Regions from separate parts of the Homo sapiens genome. Here all the other regions are linked to region 2. The links come from fine-mapping of genetic effects on gene expression. A gene starts in region 2. Each other region holds a variant in brackets. All regions are shown on one strand. Distances are from middle to middle. Region 1 holds the start of CD84-AS1 (CD84 antisense RNA 1). Region 2 holds the start of CD84 (CD84 molecule). Region 3 holds the start of SLAMF6 (SLAM family member 6). Region 4 overlaps SLAMF6 (SLAM family member 6). Region 5 overlaps CD84 (CD84 molecule).

What was found. PIP is the estimated chance that this variant, and not a neighbour inherited with it, causes the effect.
Region 1: its variant is fine-mapped to the expression of CD84 in whole blood (TOPMed, PIP 0.96).
Region 3: its variant is fine-mapped to the expression of CD84 in T cells (TOPMed, PIP above 0.99).
Region 4: its variant is fine-mapped to the expression of CD84 in whole blood (TOPMed, PIP 0.96).
Region 5: its variant is fine-mapped to the expression of CD84 in whole blood (TOPMed, PIP above 0.99). The same link has a PIP of 0.9 or more in esophagus muscle.

Annotation. Positions count from the first base shown.
Region 1 is chr1:160,536,814-160,541,918 of GRCh38, reverse strand. It overlaps CD84 (CD84 molecule), which reads left to right. Exons shown (of 7, transcript NM_003874.4): 7 at 1-821. CD84-AS1 (CD84 antisense RNA 1) reads right to left here and starts at 4,823. Exons shown (of 2, transcript NR_188634.1): 1 at 4,732-4,823. RefSeq lists enhancers at 1,426-1,720, 1,736-1,825. The variant A/G (reference allele first, on the strand shown) is at 2,365.
Region 2 is chr1:160,577,213-160,582,317 of GRCh38, reverse strand. It overlaps CD84 (CD84 molecule), which reads left to right and starts at 2,822. Exons shown (of 7, transcript NM_003874.4): 1 at 2,822-2,926. The coding sequence starts at 2,881.
Region 3 is chr1:160,523,067-160,528,171 of GRCh38, reverse strand. SLAMF6 (SLAM family member 6) reads left to right here and starts at 4,917. Exons shown (of 8, transcript NM_001184714.2): 1 at 4,917-5,028. The coding sequence starts at 4,980. RefSeq lists an enhancer at 5,083-5,105. The variant G/A (reference allele first, on the strand shown) is at 2,352.
Region 4 is chr1:160,499,058-160,504,162 of GRCh38, reverse strand. All of the region lies in intron 1 of SLAMF6 (SLAM family member 6), which reads left to right. Among named protein-coding and RNA genes, the nearest start is that of SLAMF6, 22 kb to the left of the region's middle. The variant T/C (reference allele first, on the strand shown) is at 2,140.
Region 5 is chr1:160,548,944-160,554,048 of GRCh38, reverse strand. CD84 (CD84 molecule) reads left to right here. Exons shown (of 7, transcript NM_003874.4): 3 at 1-154; 4 at 552-671; 5 at 3,014-3,111; 6 at 4,070-4,132. The region is part of intron 1 of CD84-AS1 (CD84 antisense RNA 1); the gene reads right to left. Among named protein-coding and RNA genes, the nearest start is that of CD84-AS1, 14 kb to the right of the region's middle. RefSeq lists enhancers at 3,112-3,341, 4,172-4,411 and a silencer at 4,562-4,611. The variant G/A (reference allele first, on the strand shown) is at 2,990.

The DNA.
Region 1 (5,105 bases), 40 kb after region 2:
TAATACACCTTCCCTCTACATGCTCACTCCCTCAGATCATTGCTTTATCACGTGTTACCTGGGTTGCTATTACATAAAGAGCAATCTTTCTAAAATGAGGATCTTATCACTTCACTTCCACACTAAAATGTTTTTCCTGGGGAACCACACTCCTTAGCAATCTGACCCATCAGACCTTCCAGGCTGTCTCCTGCCTGCTCCCTAAGGCTCCAGCCACACAGAATTATCATGGGCCCACACACCCACCAAATCCTCCCATGCCTTTGCCCATGTTGTCTGGGATGCCCTTCTCTCCCTTCTGTCTACATCAAGCATCAGACTGAATATCCCTCTTGTGCGGCCTTCTAAAACCTCCCGTCCAAAGCGAAATATATTGCCCTCTATTTATACTTTTACAGCATTTGGCACACAAGTACAGAGTAGTAGCTTTTTATCACATTCTCTGATAATTATATAGATATGGTATTTCTTAGCTCTCTCTCCAACTGGCTAATAAGTTGCTTTTTGTCTGAGTGCCTAATTTTGTGTTTTGTGTCTGAGTGCCTCAGTTCCTCAAAAAAAGGTTTTTTGATTAGTTCATTATTCATTTGAACATGGAAATTATGCTCACTAGTGGCAAATGCCACTAACCGTATTCCAGAAGCTAGGTGTCATGTTTGCAATAAGATATATTATCCCTTCTACAAGTCACCTTTTATTTCAGGCATTTGTAAATGCCCATTAATAAAGTATGGTTCATAAATTTTACCTTGTAAGTGCCTAAGAAATGAGACTACAAGCTCCATTTCAGCAGGACACAATAAATATTATTTTATAATGCATCTATTTTGTGTTTTACTTTGTTTTGGTTTTTGAGAGCAACAAAAATGAAGTAAACAGATGAAACAGCAAAGGAGACAGTCCACATGATAAAAGCCCTGTGCTGTCTGAAAACCCAGGCCCTGAGTGGACACAAGAGACCAAGGGATTGAGGGTATAAGACAGACAAAGAAAAAAAGAAAAGCTGATGTAGAGAGATGATTGGGACCTTGAGAGGAGACTGAGAAGCTAGAGACAGGAAGGACAAATGCCAGAAACAGAAAAAACCCGGAGGGCAGCAGAGGTGCTTGGTTAAGGTGGAGAAGAGAGTTCTGCCTTGGTCAACCTAGAGAGAGGAAATTGAGGACTTAAATCACGTTTTGGGGGTCATCTCCCTCCAGGGAAGAAGCTTTGTCTTATTCATTTTTCACTCACAGTGCCCTATCACAGGAGCCAATGCCTAGCAGAGCTTAGTAAGTATTTGTTGAACTGAATTTGGATTGGCACCCACATATCAGAAGAGGAAAGAGAGTCCTGGAAACCACATTCAGAGTCCGAGTCCCAAATTGGAGAGTAGAAATTCTCTGTGTCACCCATAGTGCCACTTGGAGGAAAGGGATAAAAAGACTGGGCTTTTAACTGAGGAGAATGAGGTTGTGGTTTCCACAGAACTGTAGGTGCAGGGCCTCTGAATGTTTGGTAAACACTGAAGGGGAGGTGACTTACTAACAGGCGCTGTGAGATAGCAAATGGTTTTTAGGCCTGAGACAAAACCACTTCCTCTATTCCCTGCTTATCAGAGGCCACAGCTGCTCTGTTCTGAGCCAGCGTTTGCAGATAAGCCTGGTCTTCCAGCTCCCCACCTACATCTTCTTGTGGGGTTGAAATTGACTGCTACCCATGTAGAATTTCGGAGTCCCTGTGTAGAAACTCTGTAGGCAGATACAGCAACCGTTTGAGAAGATAAATTTCGCTAGTGTTTCTCCAGTGCTTTCTGAGGTTTGGCACATTTCATTTCATTTCATCTACACATTAGCCATAGGACTTTCAGCTTGAAATTACCTCCACCTCCTTACCCTCACTACCTCCAATACACAGCTTCACTCATTCACACAATGCCCATTCATTCTTCTGGGATAAGCTCAAGCGTCCCTTCCTGGGGGGAAGTTTTCCCTGTTCCTCCAGGCCATATCTGATGCCCGTGTTTTGCGCTCATAGTACAACACCTCTTGCCTTTACAGCAGTTTTCAATTTTGTCTTTAAATATTTCTCCCTGTGATTATTTTATTAATTCCTCTCTTCCGTCACTGGACTGTGAGTTCCATCAGGACACAGATCATGCGTGGTTTTGTCACCATTTGTATCCACAGTGCCTGACCCAGTGCAAGTAGTCCTCAATTTGTAATACTTTAATTATTGAAGACGCAATAGCTTATCAGCCTTTAACTGTGTTAGCTGGCATGTTACAATCCTTTGGCATATGTATCAACGACAAAGCCAGGTATACTGTTTATTTCTGAAGTATATTACCTTCATAGATTCTATAAAACCCTTGGTTGGAAATGC[A/G]CTAGAAAATATTGATTTTACCTGCTATGCAGGAGACACAGAAGAGTTAACACAGCAGGGCTAAAACTGCTGTCCTTTGAAGGGCATGCTTATAAGGTTGGCCCTTGGCTGGTGTCTGAGAACTTGGACTTTGGGACGGTTCCTACCATTCCCTGATAAGAATTCCCTGATAAGGTACTTACACTGTACCTAAATTGTTGGCACAACAATTTGTTTTTTGCTGAATATCTGCTTTCTTTCTTGGATTCTGGAATTTTGGTGCATGCTAGGTAGAGGGTGCCTACGTTACTGCCTGCAGAGAAAAACCCTAAATGCCTAGGCTCCATCGAGCTTCTTTGGTAGATTACATTTCAAACATGACACAACATGTTGTTGAAGGAATTACATACATCCTGTTTGACTCCACTATGAGAGGACTCTAGAAGCTTGCACCTGGTTTCCTCTGGACTTTGCCCTTTTGCCTTTGCTGATTTTCTTTGTGTTTATTCACTGTAATAAATCGGCCATGACTATGGCTATATGCTGAGTCTTGTGAGTCCTCCTACTGAATGACTGAATCTGGGGGTGGTCTTGAAAACCCCAACACAACTCCTGAATGTCACTACAATCTATCTACCTCTCTTTCACCACTAACTACAGTAGTCCAGGTTGCCATCATCTCTTACCCAGACAATAGCACTTGACCTCTTGCAGTCGTGCCTGCTCCCAGTCCAATCCATTCTCTACACCACAACCAGAGTGATCTTTCCAAAACACAAATAATGGTTATATTGGCCATGCTAATGTCATCTGGTGGCAGAAAGGACCAATGGATTGCTGTGGTATAAGGCTTTGTATATGTAATAACTTATAAGTTGAAAATTTATAATTAAGCCCTGGCACAGTGGCTCACGCCTGTATTGGGAGGCTGAGGTGGGTGGATTACTTGAGGCCAGGAGTTCAAGACCAGCCTGGTCAACATGGTGAAACCCCGTCTCTACTAAAAGTACAAAAACAAAAAAAAAAAAAAGCCGGGTGTGGTGGCACACACCTGTAGTCCCAGCTACTTGGAAGGCTGAGGCACGAGAATTGCTTGAACCCGGGAGGCAGAGGTTGCAGTGAGCTGAGATGGTGCCACTGCACTCCAGCCTGGGCAACAGAGCAAGACTCTTTCTCAAAAGAAAGAAAAGAAAGAAAAAAAAAAGAAAAGGAAAGGAAAGAAAGAAAGAGAGAGAGAAAGTTAGTTTATAATTAGAAGAAATTCTTTAACCTGAAAAAAAATGGAAAGATATTCAGTGGTCTAATTGCCAAAAGTGTACCAGCCTAGATGGTCTTAAGGGCTAGTCCTATCACCTACAATGAAAGGATAATTCCCAGTCATCTTAACTGTCCCAAGGCATAGAAAACAGTGGGAAGCTTCCAAATTCATTAAATACTATAATATAACACTGATTCCAAAGCCAGATAAGGATGATCCCCCACAAAGAGATACATAGGCCAGGAGTTAGCAAACTATGGCGTGTGGCCACATCCAGTCTGCCATCTGTTTTTATTTGACCCACGAACTAAGAATAGTTTACATTTTTAAAATGGTTGAAAAGAATTCAAAGAATAATAATATTTTGGGACATGTTAAAATTATGTGAAATTCAAATTTCAGCATCCATAAATAAAGTTTTATTGAAACACAGCCAACACGCATTCTTTTATGTGTTTATTATGGCTGCTTCCATACTACACCAGCAGAGTTGAGTAGTTGCAAAGGAGATTGTATGGTCCACAAAGTCCAATATTCACTACTGGGACCTTTACAGAAAAAGTCTGCCACATCCTGATATAGTCCAATCTCACTTATAAATATAAATGTTAAAAATCTTAAACTTCAGTCAATTTTAAAGCAATGCATTAAAAGAAAAAAAAATGCGACCAAGTAGGATTTTATCCTTAGAGTGCCAGGATGATTTATCTTTAAGAAACCATCTATTGTAATTTGCTGTTCAAACAGATTAAAGGAGATGAAAAAAATAATCATCCTGACATAGTCTACAATATATATTTGATAAAACTGAATACCCATGACTGATTTAAAAAGTTTTCAAGAAAGCTAAAAATAGAATGTGTTTTAGTCAATATCCAATTTTAAAAAACTGAGACCATGTTAAATACTGAAAACTCAACAAGCTGAATATAGGGAATTGATTCCAAAAGTGATGGAGGAGTAAAACAGGGAAGCTGAGGTTACCAAGCAATTAATAATTCCAGGAAGTTGCTATGGAACTTTGTCCCTATGGAAATTTGTCTTGGGAATCAGTGCTGCCAGCTTTCAAGATTCTAAGAGTTCACAGTCTCATCAAAACTGTGAGACTCTGGGAGACAAAAATAACTCACCACTGCAGATGCCACCATCAAAGCCTGATCCCACCAGTACCACACTAGCAAGACTTCTGACATGCTTGCTGGAACTGCACTGCTACACCAGGAACCCTGAAGCGGTACTCATCTTCTGCTATCACTGCCACTACTGAAAACATTACCAGAAACCAAGATTATGGAAAAATATATAATTTATTCCTTCCATCCAACTTTAACCAATACCACCCAGTGACAAAATCTAATCAGAAGCCATCTGACAATGGAAATGATAAATGTAGTTTGCAGACTTCTAACCTTCTGAAAAACAAGGAACACAGAAGGGTGGGAATAGAGCTGAGAGCAAATAAGCAAATGACTGGCTCGGGTTAAACTTTTACAACTTGATACAG
Region 2 (5,105 bases):
CCATTTCCACATAAGAAATTCATCTCTCCAGTAAATTACATATCACCATAAACAAAAATATACAGGAACTGAGAGAAATCAATAACTCTACTGTTTTGTGCAAATGCAGTTGAGTTTATGATCACAACTGCCCTTATCTATAAGTCTGCTAACCCTTGAGCCTTGAAGGGAAAAGATAAACACCAGCAGCCAGTGTTTTAATTGTACCACAAGAAGGCCTGAACAACAAGAACATTTTTCCTGCATTGGTTTCATCAATACCCTGTCATTGAAGTCAGGAAATACCTTGCCAGTAAGGGACTGCGTTTTAAAGTTATTTTGATATTGGACAGTGCCCCTGGCCACCCAGAGCCCCAGGAGTTCAACAGCAAAGGCACTGAAATGGTATACTTCTCCCCAGACATGTTTCTAATTCAGCCTCTAGAACAGGGGGTCATAAGGACCTTTAAGGCTCATTATATACGTACTCTATGGAAAGAATTGTCAATGCCTAGGAAGACAACCCCAGGAGAGGGCCATCATGAAAGTCTAGAAAGATTACACCATTAAAGATGCTATCATTGTTGCAGAAAAAGTGGTGAAAGCCATTAAGCCTGAGACAATAAACTCTGCTTGAGGAAACTGTGTCCAAATGTTGTGCGTGACTTCACAGGATTTATGACAGAGCTAATCAAGGAAATTATGAAAGATATTGTGGATATGGCAAAAAAAAAAGTTGGGGTAAAAGGTTTCAAGAAATAAATCTTGGCAAAATTCAAGAGCTAATAGACACCACACCAGAGGAATTAATGGAAGATGACTTGATGGAGAAGAATGCATCTAAGCCAGGATCAAACAATGCGGAAGAAAACATAGAAGCAGCAGTGCCAGAAAACAAGCTGACATTAGACAGTCTGACAGAAGGCTTCTGACTATTCGGGACCGCTTTTGACTTCTTTTATGATATGGGCCCATCTATGGTATGATACAGGCACTAAAACTAAAACAAATGGTAGAAGTAAGAAGGGGTACCATATAGAAATATTTTTAGAGAAATGAACAAGCAAAAAAGTCAGACAAAAATTAAATATACTTCTGAAAAGTTACACCGACTGTGCCTGTCTCTTCCACCTTCCCTTCAACCTCCTCTATCTCTTCTTCCCCAGGGACCCCTGAGACAGCAAGACCAACTCCTCCTTATCCTCCTCCTCCTTAGCCTACTTAACATGAAGATGATGAGGATAAAGACCTTTATGATGATCTAATTCCACTTAATGAACAGTAAATATATTTTGTCTTCATCATGATTTTCTTAATACCATTTTATTTTCTCTAGCTTACTTTCCTGCAAGAATATGGTAAACAATGTATATGACACATAGAATATGTGTTAATCAACTGTGTTGTTGGTAAGGCTTCCTGTCAACAGTAGGCTATTAGTAGTTGAGTTTAGGGGTGTCAAAAGTTATGCATGGATTTTCGACTGGTTGAGGGGACAGCACTCCAAACCCCTGCATTGTTCAAGGGTCAACTATATTCAGTATTATGTAAGTATATATGGGAAATGATCAGCAGGATTATTTAATGTGTGACTCTAGAGGCCAGGTTACCTAGGAATGAGCTAGCTAGCATGAGGACTCGTCTCAGTTAAAAAAAAGCTCCTCCAGGTCTCAGGGGTAGTGTCCCCAGCCTTCTCATTACTCCCCAAAACAGCTGAGTCAAACTTAAATATTCATTTCTATCCCCATTCCCAGACAACATCTCCCATACACACATTACACAATCACTCTTATTCTTGTTAACCAAGATGAAGACCCTCTACAAGAAATAGTCCTGTTACATCTAGCTCAACTCCACCTAAGCCTGCCTCTGCACCTGCTGTCTCTCATGCCCAGGAGTCACAGTCTTTGCCAAGTGACACTGCTGGCTTTTAACTCAGTTCCCTAATTCACTGTGTGATATAGGGAAAAGTCACTTCCTCTCCTTCTGAGCCAGTTTCTCCATCTGCAAAATAGATTCAATAGTCTAAAAATCCCTTTTGACTTCATTTTTATCAAACACTTTTTGTGTCCCTAATAAGGTGTGATCATAATCATAATGTTTCATGATGATATCATGGAATTATACATAATTATATGTATGTAGTTATACTATATTATATATTAATATATTATATAATTATATATTATTGTATCATATATAAATATAATTATATATTATTAATATAATACTTAATATTGATTATGTTAAATAATATCACATGTTGATTATACATTATAATACATAATCATGTACTTGTGATCATTTTATATAACTATAATTATGTAATTTTAATTGCTATGTTTTTTTAAGCTCCTACCATATGTCAAAACATTTTTCCTCTTTCATATCCCCCACCGCCATTCGCCTAATAATGGTAATTCATTCTTTGAGCCTGTCTCAGGTTGGTTGTCAGTTTCTTTAGGAAGCCTACTCCAACTTTTCTTAGCCTGAGTTAGATGCCCCTATTCCTCTCATAGTTCCCTGTATTTTTCCTATTGCAATGCTTACTACATTAAATTGGAACTGCTTATAGAGTTGTTGATTACTCCAAAAAAGAGTATAAATGCCATGAAAGGAGGGTGATCAATTGTTTTGTTGCTCTGTATATTGCCAGCACCCAGAAGAGGGCCTGGCACATAGTAGGCACACAATAAATATGTGTTGAATAAATAATTAATGCTAGGCACTTTAAATTGGAAAAAACTAGCACAGTAATACAAAGACCAATGTTAACTAAATCAGTTAACATGCACTTCCTTTCTTAAATGTCGTTATAAAAAGGAGGAAGAAAACTCAAGTGAAACTGACTCTGCTAGAACAGTGCCGTGCTTTTCCACAGAAGGTTAGACCCTGAAAGAGATGGCTCAGCACCACCTATGGATCTTGCTCCTTTGCCTGCAAACCTGTGAGTTCTGACCCTTGCTGATCGCCTCCTAGTTTTCCATAAAGTTTTAAAAATTGCCCTTAAGGAAGACATTGAACTGTCTTTTTGATCTGTGTTTAGCAGAACACCCTGGGTCTCAGTATCTACTGTACTCAACAGGATCCAACTGGCTGGGGAGAGACTTAAAATTCAAACCTAAGTGTTTAGGTTCAGCTTTAAAGTTTATATTACTGAGTTATATTTCTGAGATCTGGAGATCTCAGTTTCCAAAGGTCTGAGGCAAATCCTTCTCAGAGGAATCAGCACTTGGTAAACCCACCCAAAAAGCCTGGCAAAAGAAAGATCTTCTAAAAGCTTGAATGACTTACAAGCAATTTCTTCTTGGCATTCAATTGTGATGGCGTTTGAGAGAGAAAAATGTCTTTCCTAATTATAGTTGATTGTTCTATCAGGTTAGAGTGATGGATGACTCATCGTTATCATTGTTGAGCCTCATCTCTATAAACTCCCTTTATTTTCAAAACACAGAGCTATTACTCTGCTTTTATCCTCAACAAACTCTAAAATAAATGAGGAAGAGATTACTATCCCATTTTTTACAAATAGTCTCAAAAAAGAGTTGGAGAACTTGAATTAAAAACCCTATTTTTCTTACTTATGGCATAACAGTAAACTAAAAGAACGACATGAATATTGATTGTTATTTGTACAAAGAAAATTGTAACATTAACATAGATCTGGGAGTGCTGTGTCATTGTACATGTTATCTCCTTAAATACAAACAATTGCTCTAACAGAAATTTACTATGTTTGGAACTTCTAGATCTACTTCTAGTATCTCTTGCCAGTTCTGAAAATGCACTAGCAGAATTCTGGCATGAGTTAGAACCCTGGGAACCTAGTACGTTTGGATTTTCTGTAAAGGTAGAATCAATGCACTGTGATCTCTCTGGTTTCTTTGGCCATTTCAAGCTATGGCTCCTTTAATTTGAACTTCATGGAGATTGTAACCACTAGTCAGACCAAATTTTTGGAGCCTCTGCTGGTCGCTCTAGAATGGCAGACAGAAAATGCAAGTAGATGAGGAATGGTACTAGGGATGTCCCTAATCTTCCAGAGAGAGACCAGACAAGGTAGCATTTGATACCACTTAATTTGCAAAACATTCTACAATGTTTATGCCTACATTCTTATGTCATCCATATGAAAACCATTGAGATGAGCAAGATAGACGTTATTAATCCCATTATGCAAGAAAAATAATAAATTAAGATTTAGGGGTTTAAAAATTCACCTGAAATTTCACTACCTAAATTGGTAGAGCTGGAAATAGACATTGGTTTTTCTAATTCCAAGGTTAATCCCAATCCCATTGGTTCTTCTTTCTGCTCCACCTGACCTCTTCACTCATTGCTTTCAAATTTTTGATGCTCTTCAAAAGGTTAATACCTGCTAAGATAAAAGGTAGCTCTAGGATACACTTCTTTCATCTACTGAAACTGAAATAAAGTTGTCAAATCAGCTAGTAGTGAATTGTTTACAAGTTTTGTGACCTAGACGAAGTTACATTCCTCCTCTGACTCTTGTTTCAGCTTCAAAATGGGGAGGTATTAATACAGTAGAATTGTTTTGAGAATCAAAATGATGATAATGCATGTACAACACTTGCCATGGTACCTGAATATAGTAAGTGTTTAACAGATATCAGCTAATGCTACTATTTTTCACACTCGCTTTTCATTCATTATTAGGAAGAGCCATGGCTTTACCACACAGAGATCCTGGGCAGGACTCCTCTGTCAGGGAATTGTCCAAGGAACATAAACAGGAGAAAAGGTGGTGGGAGTTTGAGCTTAGGTGTTGGTTGTCTGGGTTCTGGAAAAGGAAACTAGGAGTGAGATATTCATTTCATCAAGGATCCATGAAAGGGGAATGGGAGCTTGTTTTTATAAAAGTGAAGCCAGGAGTACTTTTTACATACTGTCCACCTTTACTGAATTATCTGTTTGCCTCTTAAGGATTATTCTGCAAACCTTTTCTGAGCACAAAAATATACCATGAATTCCTCCTGCTGCTGTTCCTGGTAGAGGTAGTCCCTTACATTCAGTATTGGGCTTAGGAGTCTACACTTTACACATTTCCCTGGAATTCAGAGCAGTTGAAGAGGCTGAGAAGCAGTGGAGAGATGCAGGGAGAAATC
Region 3 (5,105 bases), 54 kb after region 2:
AAGCAAATGCTGAGAGATTTTGTCACCACCAGGCCTGTCTTACAAGAGTTCCTGTAGGAACCACTAAACATGGAAAAGAACAACCGGTACCACCCACTGCAAAAACATACCAAATTGTAAAGACCATCGACACTATGAAGAAACTGCATCAACTAACGGGCAAAATAACCAGCTAGCATCATAATGACAGGATCAAATTCACACATAACAATATTAACCTTAAATGTAAATGAGCTAAATGCCCCAATCAGAAGACACAGGCTAGCAAATTGGATAAAGAGTCAAGACCCATCAGTGTGCTGTATCCAGGAGACCCATCTCATGGGCAAAGACACACATAGGCTCAGAATAAAGGGCTGGAGCAATATTTACCAAGCAAATGAAAAGAAAAAAAAAGCAGGGATTGCAATCCTAGTCTCTGATAAAACAGACTTTAAAACAACAAAGATAAAAAAGGACAAAGAAAAGCATCACATAATGGTAAAGGGATCAATGCAACAAAAAGAGCTAACTATCCTAAATAGATATGTGCCCAATACAAAGGACCCAGATTTATAAAGCAAGTTCTTAGAGACCTACAAAGAGACTTAGACTCCCACACAATAATAATGGGAGACTTTAACACCCCACTGTCAATATTAGACAGATCAATGAGACAGAAAATTAACAAGGATATCCAGGACTTGAACTCAGCTCTGGAACAAGAGGACCTAATAGACATCTACAGAACTCTCCACCCCAAATTGACAGAAGACACATTCTTCTCAGCACCACATCACATTTATTCTAAAACTGACCACATAATTAGAAGTAAAACACTCCTCAGCAAATGCAAAAGAATGGAAATCATAACAAACTGTCTCTCAGACCGCAGTACAATCAAATTAGAACTCAGGATTAAGAAACTCACTCAAAACCACAAAACTACATGGAAACTGAACAATCTGCCCTGAATGACTACTGGGTAAATAAAAAAATTAAGGCAGATATAAATAAGTTCTTTAAGGCCAATGAGAACAAAGACACAATGTACCAGAATCTCTGGGACACAGCCAAAGCAGTATGTAGTGGGAAACATAGCACTAAATGCTCACAAGGGAAAGCAAGAGAAATCTAAAATTCACATCTGACATCACACTTAAAAGAACTAGAGAAGCAAGAGCAAACAAATTCAAAAGCTAACAGAAGACAAGAAATAATTAAAATCAGAGCAGAACTGAAGGAGATAGAGACACTAAATACCCTTCAAAAATCAATGAATCCAAGAGCTGTTTTTTGCAAAGATCAACAAAATAGATAGCTAGTCAGACTAATGAAGAAAAGAGAAGAATCAAATAGACACAATAAAAAATGATAAAGGGGACATTGCCACTGATCCCACAGAAATACAATCTACCGTCAGAGAATACTACAAACACCTCTACACAAATACTAGAAAATCTAGAAGAAATGGATAAATTCCTGGACACATACACCCTCCCAAGATTAAACCAGAAGGAAATCAAATCCCTAAATAGACCAATAAAAAGTTCTGAATTTGAGGCAGTAATTAATAACCTACCAACCAAAAAAAGCCCAGGACTAGATGGATTCACAGCCGAATTCTACCAGAGATACAAAGAGGAGCTGGTGCCATTCCTTCTGAAACTATTCCAAACAATAAAAAAAGAGGGACTCCTCCCTAACTCATTTTATGAGGCCAGCATCATCCTGATACCAAAACCTGGCAGAGACACAACAAAAAAAGAAAATTTTAGGCCAATATCCCTGATGAACATTGATGTAAAAATCCTCAATAAAATACAGGCAAACTGAATCCAGCAGCATATCAAAAAGCTTATCCACCAGCCGGGCATGGTGGCTCGTGCCTGTAATCCCAGCACTTTGGGAGGCTGAGGTGGGTGGATCATGAGGTCAGGAGATCGAGACCATCCTGGCTAACACAGTGAAACTCTGTCTGTACTAAAAATACAGAAAAATTAGCTGGGCGTGGTAGTGGGCACCTGCAGTCCCAGCTACTCAGGAGGCTGAGGCAGGAGAATGGCATGAACCCAGGAGGCGGAACTTGCAGTGAGCCAAGATTGTTCCACTGCACTCTGGCCTGGGCGACAGAGCAAGACTCCACCTCAAAAAAAAAAAAAAAAAAAGCTTATCCACCACAATCAAGTTGGCTTCATCCCTGGTATGCAAGGTTGGTTCAACATATGCAAATCAATAAATGTAATTCATCACATAAACAGAACCAATGACAAAAACCACATGATTATCTCAATAGATGTAGAAAAGGCCTTTGATAAAATTCAACATCCCTTCATGTTAAAAACTCTTAATAAACTAGGTACTGATGGAAC[G/A]TATCTCAAAATAATGAGAGCTATTTATGACAAACCCACAGCCATTATCATACTGAATGGGCAAAATCTGGAAGCATTCCCTTTGAAAACTAGCACAAGGATGCCCTCTCTCACCACTCCTATTCAACATAATATTGAAAGTTCTGACCAGGGCAATCAGGCAAGAGAAAGAAGTAAAGGGTATTCAGATAAGAAGAGAGGAAATCAAATAGTCTCTGTTTGCAGATGACATGATTGTATATTTAGAAAACTCCATTGTCTTAGCCCAAAATCTCCTTAAGCTGATAAGCAGCTTCAGCAGTCTCAGGATACAAAATCAATGTGCAAAAATCACAAGCATTCCTATACACCAAAAATAGACAAACAGAGAGCCAAGTCGTGAGTGAACTGCCATTCACAATTGCTACAAAGAGAATATAATACCTAGGAATACAACTTACAAGGGATGTGAAGGACCTCTTCAAGGAGAACTACAAACCACTGCTCAAGGAAATAAGAAAGTACACAAACAAATGGAAAACCATTCCATGCTCATAGATAGGAAGAATCAATATCATGAAAATGGCCATATTGCCCAAAGTAATTTATAGGTTCAATGCTATTTCCATCAAACTACTATTGACTTTCTTCACAGAATTAGAAAAAACTACTTTAAATTTCATACAGAACCAAAAACGAGCCCATATAGCCAAGACAATTGTAAGCCAAAAGAACAAAGCTGGAGGCAGCACGCTAACTGACTTCAAACTATACTACAAGGCTGCAGTAACCAAAACAGCATGGTACTGGTACCAAAACAGATATATAGACCAATGGAGCAGAACAGAGGCCTCAGAAATAACATCACACATCTACAACCATCTGATCTTTGACAAACCTAACAAAAACAAGCAATGGGGAAAGGATTCCCTATTTAATAAATGGTGTTGGGAAAACTGGCTAGCAATTATGCAGAAAACTGAAACTGGTTCCCTTCCTTATACCTTACACAAAAATTAACTCAAGATGGATTAAAGACTTAAATGTTAGACCTAAAACCACAAAAACCCCAGAAGAAAACCTAGGCAATACCATTCAGGACAAAGGCATGGGCAAAGACTTCAATACTAAAACATCAAAATCAATGGCAACAAAAGCCAAAATTGACAAATGGGACCTAATTAAACTAAAGAGCTTCTGCACAGCAAAAGAAACTATCATCAGAGTGAACAGGGAACCTACAGAATGGGAGAAAATTTTTGCAGTCTATCCATTTGACAAAAGGCTAATATCCAGAATCTACAAAGAACTCAAACAAATTTACAAGAAAAAAAAAAAAACCCCAACAAAAAGTGGGCAAAGGATATGAAGACACTTCTCAAAAGAAGACATTTATGCGGCCAAGAAACATATGAAAAAAGCTCATCATCACTGGTCATTAGAGAAATGCAAATCAAAACTACAATGAGATACCATCTCATGCCAGTTAGAATGGCAATCATTAAAAAATCAGGAAACAACAGATGCTGGAGAGGATGTAGAGAAATGGGAATGTTTTCACACTGTTGGTGGGAGTGTAAACTAGTTCAACCATTGTGGAATACAGTGTGGCGATTCCTCAAGGATCTAGAACTAGAAATACCATTTGACCCAGCAATCCCATTACTGGTTATATACCCAAAGGATTATAAATCATGCTGCTATAAAGACACATGCACACTTATGTTTATTGCAGCACTGTTCACAATAGCAAAGACTTGGAACCAACCCAAATGCCCATCAATGATACACTGGATAAAGAAAATGTGGCATATATATACCATGGAATACCATGCAGCCATAAAAAAGGATGAGTTCATGTCCTTTGCAGGGACATGGATGAAGCTGGAAACCATCATTCTCAGCAAACTAACACAAGAACAGAAAGCCAAACAACGCATGTTCTCACTCATAGGTGGGAACTGAACAATGAGAACACATGGACACAGGTAGGGGAACATCATACACTGGGGTATGTCACGGGGTGGGGGGCAAGGGGAGGGATAGCATTAGGAGAAATATCTAATGTAGATGACAAGTTAATAGGTGCAGCACACCAACATGGCATATGTATACATATGTAACAAACCTGCACATTGTGCACATGTACCCTAGAACTTAAAGTATAATTTTAAAAAATCAGTTTTCTTTTGGCTTTTTCTTAGCTTTATACTTAAATATTTTTTTCTAATGTAATTAGAGTGGAATTGTTTTTTGAATTTTATTTTTGGATTACTCATAGCTAGTATATACAATTGCAATTGAATTTTATATTTTGATTTTGTATCTTTTCACCTTGCTGAACTCATTTATTTGTTCTAGTAGATTTTAGGAAATTCCTTACAGACTTTTACATATAAGTTTATGAAAGATGCAATAAAGGACTTTATCTTCTTTTCCAAAAAAAAAAAAAATTTGTGCACTTAGCTCAGAAAAAAGTAAACAAAAAATTAACACAGTTACAAATTAGGATTTTTAGTGCAGGGGAAGAAGTTGTCACCACGCCTCTAAGAGGAAGGGGAAGTCTCAGAAGTATTTTCAGTTTATGACAGAAGGGCAAAAACATTGACTGCCTCAAGGTCTCAAGCACCAGTCTTCACCGCGGAAAGCATGTTGTGGCTGTTCCAATCGCTCCTGTTTGTCTTCTGCTTTGGCCCAGGTAAATGTCAATCCAGATCGGTGTAGTCACTGAGTGACTCCCTGGTTTTGTGCAGCTTGCTCAACCTAAATCGTCTG
Region 4 (5,105 bases), 78 kb after region 2:
GCAACTTTGTACCCTGTGACCTACATCTCCCCATTTCCTCTCTGTTCCCTCTCTCCACCTCTGATAACCACTGCTTTATACTTTGTTTCTATGTATTTGGCTTTTTTTAACTCCTTTTTTTCTTTTGCTTTTTTTTTTTTTTTTTGAGATAGAGTCTCACTCTGTCACCCAGGCTGGAGTGCAATGGCATGATCTCAGCTCACTGCAACCTCTGCCTCCCAGGTTTAAACAATCCTCCCCAGCTGGGACTACAGGCATGTTCCACTCTGCCTGGCTGATATTTTTGTATTTTCAGTAGAGACAGGGTTTCACCATGTTGGCCAGACTAGAACTCCTAGCATTTTTAAGTTGCCTCTTTTTTTGACCCATCATTTGTTTGGTTGCTATAAACCTTTGACTAGTTTCTACAGTTCTGACAAAGTTGATTCTGACAATGTTTGCTCACTCTGTGTGTGTTCGCATGAGTGTGCATGTTTTTTGTGGAGGGATGGACCCTTGCAGTTATTTATTGTGCCATTTTGACTAATGTCACTGACCCTCAGACTTTAGGCCAGCAATTTCAACAAAGTAGTCACCATTCCCCTGAAATCCCTCTCCCCTTTGATGCCACACCTACCTATACTATGCCTATTGCTAATATTAGGTGATCCCCAGCACCTTCTTTCCCTGTTCCTGGGCTACAAGTGCTATAATCATTGGAGAAAGTTATTAGTGTGGTGCAAAAGTGATTGCGGATTTTCCCATTGAAGGTAATGGCAAAATCCGCAATCACTTTCGCACCAGCCAATGCAAAACTGGATGGACTCCATGAATGGTGCGTGTCAACCAAGCTTGGCCAATTCCTCCTCACTGCTTCCACACTCATTTATTGATGACTTGTCAGTTTCCTAACAAATTCCTCATAGCAGCTTTTACATGTCTCATCCGTCTTCCTCTAGATTCTATGAGATCTACTTCTCTTAGAACAACTTTGAGAAAAACATAAGCGAAATATTCCAACTTCTTCCCCTTTACCCTCTAAATCTTTTGAGATCTTTAACCTTATTCTTTTCAGTCTCAAAAGAAAAGGAGAACCACGTCTACCCAAGACTAACCTCTTCACTTATGCTCCTAAGCCCACCCTGGCTTCCTCCTCAGAAATGACACCGTTTTGAATACTCCCTTTCACCATATCTTAAGTTTTTTCTTTTTCTCCCAGCTGCTTCCCTTTGCTCCAAATTTGCTCAGGACTCTGTTACCTAAAGAGTAACTTCCATTTGTCCTACCTTCTCAATATCCTGACTATGTTTCTCCTCCCTTCTCTTTAAATTCTCTTGAGAAATCAGCCCCTACTCTCTTTCATACTGCATTTGCCTCCTGTGGAGCTAACACAGCTTGCTATATTCCTGTTAGCTATAGATGGGCCTAAGCTAGTCCCTCAGGTTAGAAACCCAAAGTTCCTTGACTTTTCTCTCTTTTTCAGAATCTGCTTAGTTCTACCTCTCTCCTCTCTTTCCTAAGACACTGCTCTCTTTATACTTTGCCAATTTTCAAAAATACTTCATGTTTTTTAATACCTTCCAAACTAACCCTCCACTAATCAGGTAACCCTTAAAAACTTCTCTATTCTAATTCCAATCTACTTAACATTCACTGAGTTCCCTGGACCAGGTTATGGGGAAATACAATGCTGACTAAGATATTATTTGAGTTCCCCAAAACACATCATACAGTAGATGAAACTTGTAAACAAATGTACCCCAAATGTCTGCTGTCTTGACATCCTCACCAGTGGATGGGCAAGACCTCAGCATCACCTTCATGTTGCAAGGAGTTCCCCAGTGACTTATGAGAGTCTCAAAGGAAAGCTTCCCATGAGTCCCCAAAGCAGCCTACGAGTTGTAGCCAACATGAGGCATCTTTCCCATTCTTAATCTCCTTTTCTGGTTCTAGTCCCCCACACAGGATGCCAGCAGAGCCATTTAGATGCCCTGCTTATTCCAAGAACATCAATGTCCATGCCAAGGGTGCTGGTCCCGGATGCTCCCAAAGCATCAGTGTTGATTCCTGGCAGAGCAGAGAAAAGGACCTCCATGTGCCCTCTGGGCCACACCACAACACCTTGGCCCTGAAGCAGCTCTGCTCCTGTCCAAAGTCTCA[T/C]GCAGGGTCTTTTAAACATTTTCAGTAGCATCTGACCTTCACTGTCCCTAAGCATATTGTCTCAAATCTAGTTTTGCTTTGGTTTGGTTTTGGGTCTGTGGGGAACTATTCCTACCATCTCATCCATCCTGTGCTCCTTCTCCCTTTGCTTCACCACAAACTCCTTTCTCCCCTTCCCCATGTACCAATGCAAAACCCCCATAAATATAAGAGGCAAACAGATATTTTAGCTCATCCTTGAAGGATAAATAGGAGCTTACCATGTAGGAAAGATGAAGAAAGGCATTTTAAGCAGAGGGAAAAGCAGTGCAAAAAAAAAAAAAAAGCAAGGCATTATTGGAAGAATTACAAATAATTAAGTAATGGAGAACTCATAGCTTTTATTCAAGACTTTGCTACAGTGTCATCTCCTGTGAACTGTTCCCTGACAACTCCCAACTCTTCCCAGTTCATGATTCTCTAAATTTTTGCTCCCATGGAGCACATATCTCTAACAATTCAACATTTATTGAGCTAGAAATTGTGTGCTAAGTTCTAGGAATATAGAAATAATAATCAGAATCCCTGACCTCAAGATTATGGAAAAGAAAAGAAAATAATCTTGTAATTATAACAAAGAGAAAGAACTGCTTGCAATTGCATGTATAACTGCAATAGTGATACGAGGGCAATGCAGAGGCAAGCCTTACACTAGCTCAATGCCCAACCCACCACATCAGAACTAACTACTCATTTACCTGTCAGGCTCCTCTATCAGATGATGGACCCAGAGGACTGACAGTATCTTATATTCCCAGTTTCCAGTCTAGAAACTGGTACATAAAACAGACCTAATAAATATGCCATGGTTCCTAAGGTTTTACTAATTGAATTAGCATGGAAGTTAGCAAATATTAGAATATTTGAACACCAGAATGAATAAACAAACAAACAAATAAATAAATTTCTGTGCTTGTCTTTGCAGATTGGCTCTGTTTTGGGGCACTCCTTTAATGCCTAGACAGGCTACCACTCTGCCTTAGCCTTGACTTTCTTCTTGTAAGCAGCATAAATAGCCATAGATAAAATCTTGTTACATAAACTAATTATTTCAATCTATAAAATCAATGGAACTTAAACAAGCGTTCCAGGCAAGGGAAGAACAGCTCCTGGTGAGTCCTTAGGCCACTGAGTAAGCCCAGACTCCCTACCAAAAGGAACTGAGCTTTAACATTCTAGACAGAAAACCTCCAAGAGAAGGGATGGAGATATGTCCATTCACTCAGTAAATATTCATGGGATGCTTACTATGTGCCAGGTGCTGTTCAAGAATGTTCACAATAGTAGACAAAACAGACAAAAATCTTTGTCTCCATGGAGATTACATTCTAGTGGAGAGGTGAGAAAATAAACAAAAACAAATATTTAAATTATAAAGTATACTAGATGGTAAGTACTAGATGGTAAATCCAAAGGCAGCTGGATGTGCAAGGGTGGATGGGGGCTGATGGTGCAAAAAGAGTGGTCACACTTCTTTAAATTCTCTGAGCAGGAATGTTTGCATTAATGACTTTATGGAGGCAAAAGAGTGAGCTGCATGGATACTTGGAGAAAGTACATTCCAGACAGAAAGGATTGCAAATGCAAAAGCCCTGGCCTGCTCAAGGAATAGCCAAGGGGGCTGGAGCAAAGTGAACAAGGGGGAGAATATAGGAATTAGGTCAAAGAAAGAGAAATGGCCAGATCATTTTGGTCCTTATAGACCATAGACATGATTTTGTTTTGCTCTGCTTTTGTTACTGTTTTAACTTTTTAAACTGAAATACAAAGAGAAAAACTATACGAATCTTAAATGTCAGCTCAATGAATTATCATAAAATGAACAAATCTGTGTAGCCAAATACAGATCTAGAGATAGGACATTATCAGTATTCCAGGATCCTTCCTTTATACTCCCTCCTATTCACCACCTCTCCCTCCTCAAAGGTAACCACTCTCTTGACTTCTGACAGCATAGATTTGTCTGTTTATCAACTTTAAATAAATAGAATCATATATTTGTATTCTCTGGTATCTGGACATTCTGCTCAAAATGTTGCTTGTGGTATTCACCCATGTGATTCAGAGGAAAGAGGAATAAAGATGACAAATAACAGTGTGTTAAAATGCTGATGGGAAAGATGTTGATGACAGCAATGTTCATGTGCCTGGAACCCATATGACAATTCATGAAAGAGAGAGGAAGTGCAAGCTCACCCAGGAGCTGAGCACTAGGACTCCAAGAGACATTTCCTTCCCTATTCAGCTCCTCCTATAAGAAATAAGAAACCCTCAGAAATGACAACTTTCCATGCTCATGGATTGGAAGAATCAACATCGTTAAAATGGCCATACCACACAAAGCAATTTCTAGATTCAGTGCTATTCCTATCAAACTACCAATGTCATTCTTCACAGAATTAGAAAAACCATTCTAAAATTCATATGGAACCAAAAAAAGAGCCCAAATAGTCAAAGCAATTCTAAGCAAAAACAAAAAATCCAGAGACATCACACTATCTGACTTTGAACCATACCATAAGACTATAGTAACCAAAACAGCATGGTACCGTTACACAAACAGACACATAGACAACTGGAAGAGAACAAAAAACTCAGAAATAAAGCCACACCCTTACAACCATCTGATTTTTGACAAGGCCAACAAAAGCGAGCAATGGGGAAAGGACTCCCTGTTCAATAAATGGTGCTGGATAACTGGCTAGCCATATGCAGAAGATTGAAACTGGACCCTTACCTTTAACCATATACGAAAATTAACTCAAGATGGATCAAATATTTAAATGTAAAACCTCAAGCTATAAAAATCCTAGAAAAAAATAGGAAATACCCTTCTTGACACTGGCCTTGGCAAAGAATTTTTGGCTAGGTCCCCAAAAGCAATTGCAACAAAAACGAAAATTGACAAGTGGAACCTAAGTAAACTA
Region 5 (5,105 bases), 28 kb after region 2:
AATGTGACATACAATTGGAGTCCCCTGGGAGAAGAGGGTAATGTCCTTCAAATCTTCCAGACTCCTGAGGACCAAGAGCTGACTTACACGTGTACAGCCCAGAACCCTGTCAGCAACAATTCTGACTCCATCTCTGCCCGGCAGCTCTGTGCAGGTAACCAGCTCTGCCCATCTCTCCTGGTGAGTCTCAGAGATCACTCTGAGGAGCTGCAAGGTCTGAACGTGGGCCACATTCTCTAGGGAGATGTGCTTCCTTTATCTTTGGCCTGGTCACTGAGGGCATCACCTCCCAAGAAGCCTACTGGGAAAGAGGCCAAAGCCTTCTGAGAGATGCTAGACATTTCTGGGTGTTCTGTGGCAGCCCCTGATCAACTCTCTGATTCAATTTCTCATCCTGGCTTTTAATAGCAGAAAGTTTAGTTTCCCTAGGAGCTTTGGCACTCCTTCGGAGGGCACCCAATTTTCATAATGCCCCTGACTGTGGGCAAACCTGCCCAGCCTCTTGGGCCTATTTCCTGAGAATCAAGACTCACTGCATCTTCTATTTCCAGACATCGCAATGGGCTTCCGTACTCACCACACCGGGTTGCTGAGCGTGCTGGCTATGTTCTTTCTGCTTGTTCTCATTCTGTCTTCAGTGTTTTTGTTCCGTTTGTTCAAGAGAAGACAAGGTAGGATTTTCCCAGAAGGTAAAATGTGGAAACTCACCTTCTCTCCTCCTGGGACTGAAGCCATTTATCCAAGGTTTAGCTGAAAGGCCCATTGTTCCAGGGAATCTGCCTTTTTCCGATCTCCACCCCACCACCTCCCAGAATGATGGCTCTGAGGATGGTATGACATTACCCTGAATGGTCTTCAGAATCCATTCCTGAGATCACCAGTAGCTGGTGGGCCCAGAACATGGGTTCGAGCTTAGTACATACATGAACAAGCTGTGCTTCACTGTACGAGTGTGTTCACCTTTCCAGCTCAGGGCCCTCACATGTGAAATGTTTGGACTAGAGGATCTCCAGGGTCACTTCCAATTTCATTGTATTTTGATTATGACTATTGGAGAGTCATTGAGAAACATATACTAATCCTGTACTCCATGGTTGTCACTATGTCCCTCTGAATCCCTCTGGATCATTCTGTAGTTGTGCCATTCTCCATTCAGAAAACCTGATCTTAGACCCTCAAGGAATCATTATACCCTCCGATTCACCCACATCCCATGTCCACCCAAGAACTTCCTTTTCCCACCAATCACAATAAAAAACATGGAACTTCTGCTTCCATGTTCCTGACTCTCCTTTGGGTCTGATTCCTCAGGTTCCTGCTTGAACACCTTCACTAAGAACCCTTGTAAGTTCTCAGCCACAAAGTTCCTTGAATAACAATTGGGAGGGATGGGGAGTTCCCAACAGAGTGGTTAAGACTAAGCACGTGATTTGCAGTCAGTCTAGGCGTGAAAGTCCCAGCTTGACCATTTATCAGCTACCAGTTTTTTTATCATTGTAAGCTTCCATTTTCTCAGTTGTAAAATATTCACAGTAATAAGGTGTGCTGTATATACTTATTAAGTAGATTAAATGGAATTAGAAATACAAAATACTTGGCCCAATTCCCAGTACATAGTAAGTACTTGATAAATGTTAGCTAGTATACTGATAACTGATTGGCCTGGGGCATGGTACGGAGGAGGCATTCTAGGGGGGAGGGGATTTGTGACGTGTGCCATACTCAAATGGCCTCACAATGGGGAGAAGGCATAGCCTGCTTGAACCACAGGTGATCTGCAAGGTCCCTCAAAGAGATATTGTCTTCAATCCCTCGCTGACTCTTGGGAAGAGAAAGGGCTATTCTTTGCATCTATAAATGAGACAAGAGAGAGCACTCAGTTTGTCTCATACTCACCAAATAAGTGATAGGACTAAACTCTGAATGTTGGAGCCCTGTAATACTGCTCAGCTCAGACCTGTTATTTGTAGGTATGTTGGTGCCCTGGATTATGAAGGCCCAAAATTCTGGCCTTCTTTTTTCACCTTGACCCTAAAATGTTCTGTGTTAGTACCAAAGCAAAGGAGTACACTGACGTGAATGTCTCTTCTAGCCTATACATTCTTAAAAGGAAAGACTTGTCTACTGTCTTTTCTTCTCTGGGGCCTCACACAGAGCCTGGCACATAGAAGGTGCTTAATAAATGTTTATTAACTGTGTGAACTGGCAGGGTGCTGTGGCTCATGCCTGTAATCCCAGCGCTTTGGGAGATCAAGGCATGTGGATCAGCTGAGCTCAGGAGTTCAAGACCAACCTGGGCAACATGGTGAAACCCTGTCTCTACCAAAAATACAAAAAATTTGCTGGGTGTGGTGGCACATACCTGTGGTCCCAGCTACTCAGAAGGCTGAGGTGGGAGGATCACTTGAGTCCAGAAGATAGAGGTTGCAGTGAGCCATGAGTTGGTGCACCACTGCACTCCAACGTGGGTGACAGAGTGAGAACTTGTCTCAAAAACAAACAAAAACAGACTGTGAATCAATCAAACAAGCAATAAATGTTCATGAAACATCTACTATGGGCTTAACATTGAGATGGTTACAGCAAGGTCTGCACCAAAAGAATGTAAAATAGTATATAACTAGAAAGAATCAATCAAGTTAAAAAACTAAGACCGTGACATGGAAAGTCAACTAGCCATGCAAGACAGTCAGTGGTAAGTGTCAGAAACATGAAGGGAGATCCTGGGTAGAAGAGCTACATTTGACTGGCCACACAGGGAGGGGTTGGGGAAATTGTCTTTGGCCTAATCTGGACTCTAGAGTAGAAGAGAATTCCCATTGACCTGTGGGTGAGGCCTCAGCCAAGTGACTCCTGAGACATTCTGAGGATCCAAGCATCCATTTCAAAGGATGGCAGCCATTTAATCCCTGGGGGCTTCCTTTCTTCATCTTAAAAAGAGAACATTGGAATAGATCATTGCTAAAAAAACCACCTTTCACAGACTGTG[G/A]GTCTATATTTATTTGTGAGACAGATGCTGCCTCAAAGAAAACCATATACACATATATCATGGCTTCAAGGAACACCCAGCCAGCAGAGTCCAGAATCTATGATGAAATCCTGCAGTCCAAGGTGAGCTGATGCAATTCATGGACACCCCTGTGCCACCATCTCCATGACAGGGAGTCATGGGCAGCCATTGCCTCTGCTTGTTGTTGTCTAGAAAGCAGCCACGGCCAAGAGTCCAGAGGTTCCAACCAGGAAATACCATGTCAGGGAAGTGATGCCACGGATCTTTCTATGAGGACAGGAACGTGACCCATTGTCACCCCATGGCAGCCTCCATGGGCTGAGGCACTGAGTGTCCCACAGTGGGCCCGGCTCCAGGTTAGATGAGCCATGACTAGGAGCAAGGCGCCCCCTAGAGGGGCCACACAACAGAGGAGCTACTGGAGTGAGGTGAGGGCTGCTATGTGACTACCAACGTGGTGAACAGGTTGCTAAGGGGGCTACGAGGCAACAGAACTGACAGACAAGTTCCCTTGAATGCCCCTCCTGGTCTAGCAGCAGCGGCTTGCTTTCCTCAGACTCAGAGTCACTGTTCCACACCCCTCCTCCCATCCGCCCTTTACCTGCCTGCCCCTCCCTCCCCTCCACCCTGGATCGCCCTCTCCTGTGTCCCCACCAGCCTGCCTCCTTAAAGTCTGCAAGGAATCAAGGGGGAGACTGAGGTCTGCCTGGTCAGTCTAGCGCTGTGCTTGGACTGATAGGGCAGCTGGATCCATAGAGCCCATGGAAAGCTAAAATCCTGACTGAGCAGGACTCATCCTGAACCATGGGATCCCTCCTCTTGGCCCCTGAGGTTTTTCACCCCCGAGACCCTGCCCAACTGCTACCCATTCACCCCCACCTTATCCCTTCCTGATCCTAAGCCTCTCCAGAGTTGGATGGAGGCAGAACTGAGGCCAAAGGGGAGGCCACCCAGTAAATGTGGGACCAGGGAAGGATGGTGGGTAGAGGCAGAATTAGGAAAGGGGACTTGTAGATGGGCCTGGGCTCCCTCACTGAGGGGAAGATGTGTGTTTTACAGGTGCTTCCCTCCAAGGAAGAGCCAGTGAACACAGTTTATTCCGAAGTGCAGTTTGCTGATAAGGTAACCCCTTTCTGGCTTTTTATCCTTGCTTTCCTAACTCTTCCAGCCATTCTGGTGCACCCGGTCCATCCAACCAGGGGCTAGCTGGTTCCCCTGGGACTCCTTGTAGTTCTCAGGACCCACTGCCTAGGTTTTTGGTCTATATGTACTTCCACCCATGCACAAAGCCCCACTCCCTAGGTCAATGGCCATCCACGAGTTATCTTACTTGGGATGCTGATCCCACCCTTCAAATGCAGAAGTCCCTATGCCTCTGAACTACGGTATGGGAACTCCATCCCGTATAATACCTGGGGTCACTGCTAGCTCACAGTGTGAAAATGAGAAAACAGGTGCTTCCCTCTGAGCAAACACAGGCCCATGCCAGATGCCCAGATGGGTGCAATGGAGCAGAAGCTGAATTTCAGTTCATTTGCTCCCTCAGCTGCTCTTTTACCACACGCAGCCTGCACAACCATTTGTAGTGCCAAGTGCCTTGTGCCTTATGCCTGTGCCTTATGTCCTTCTCTGTCATATGCAAAGCCCTCTGACAGGACTTTAAATTTTGGGGATCTAAGGAGGGATTGTCACTATCTGAAGGTCCTCACTGCTGCTACAATCAGGACAGCTTTAGGGTTGCTTAAAGAATCATGTTTTCTAAGTATTCCTGTTTAATAGCTGAGTTACCAAGCAGGAAGCTAAACTGAGTACGAATTGAGAGTGATCCTATAAGGCAATAGGGAGGACATCTATGAGCTCGACAAGCAGGGCAGTGCTACTTCCTTTTAAGGAGGACTTGAAGCACAGGGCAGTTTGCTTGAAAAGATAAGCCAAATGGACTGGACAACCAGATAGAGGGACATTTACTTTCTTAGTGATCAGGAGAGGGAAGGAGGGAAAGAAAAAGAAGGGGAGGAATGAGGAAAGAAGAGGAGAAGAAAAGGAGGACAGGCAAGAAGTGAGGGTCAGGGTGCCCAGCATATTTGTGCCAGGA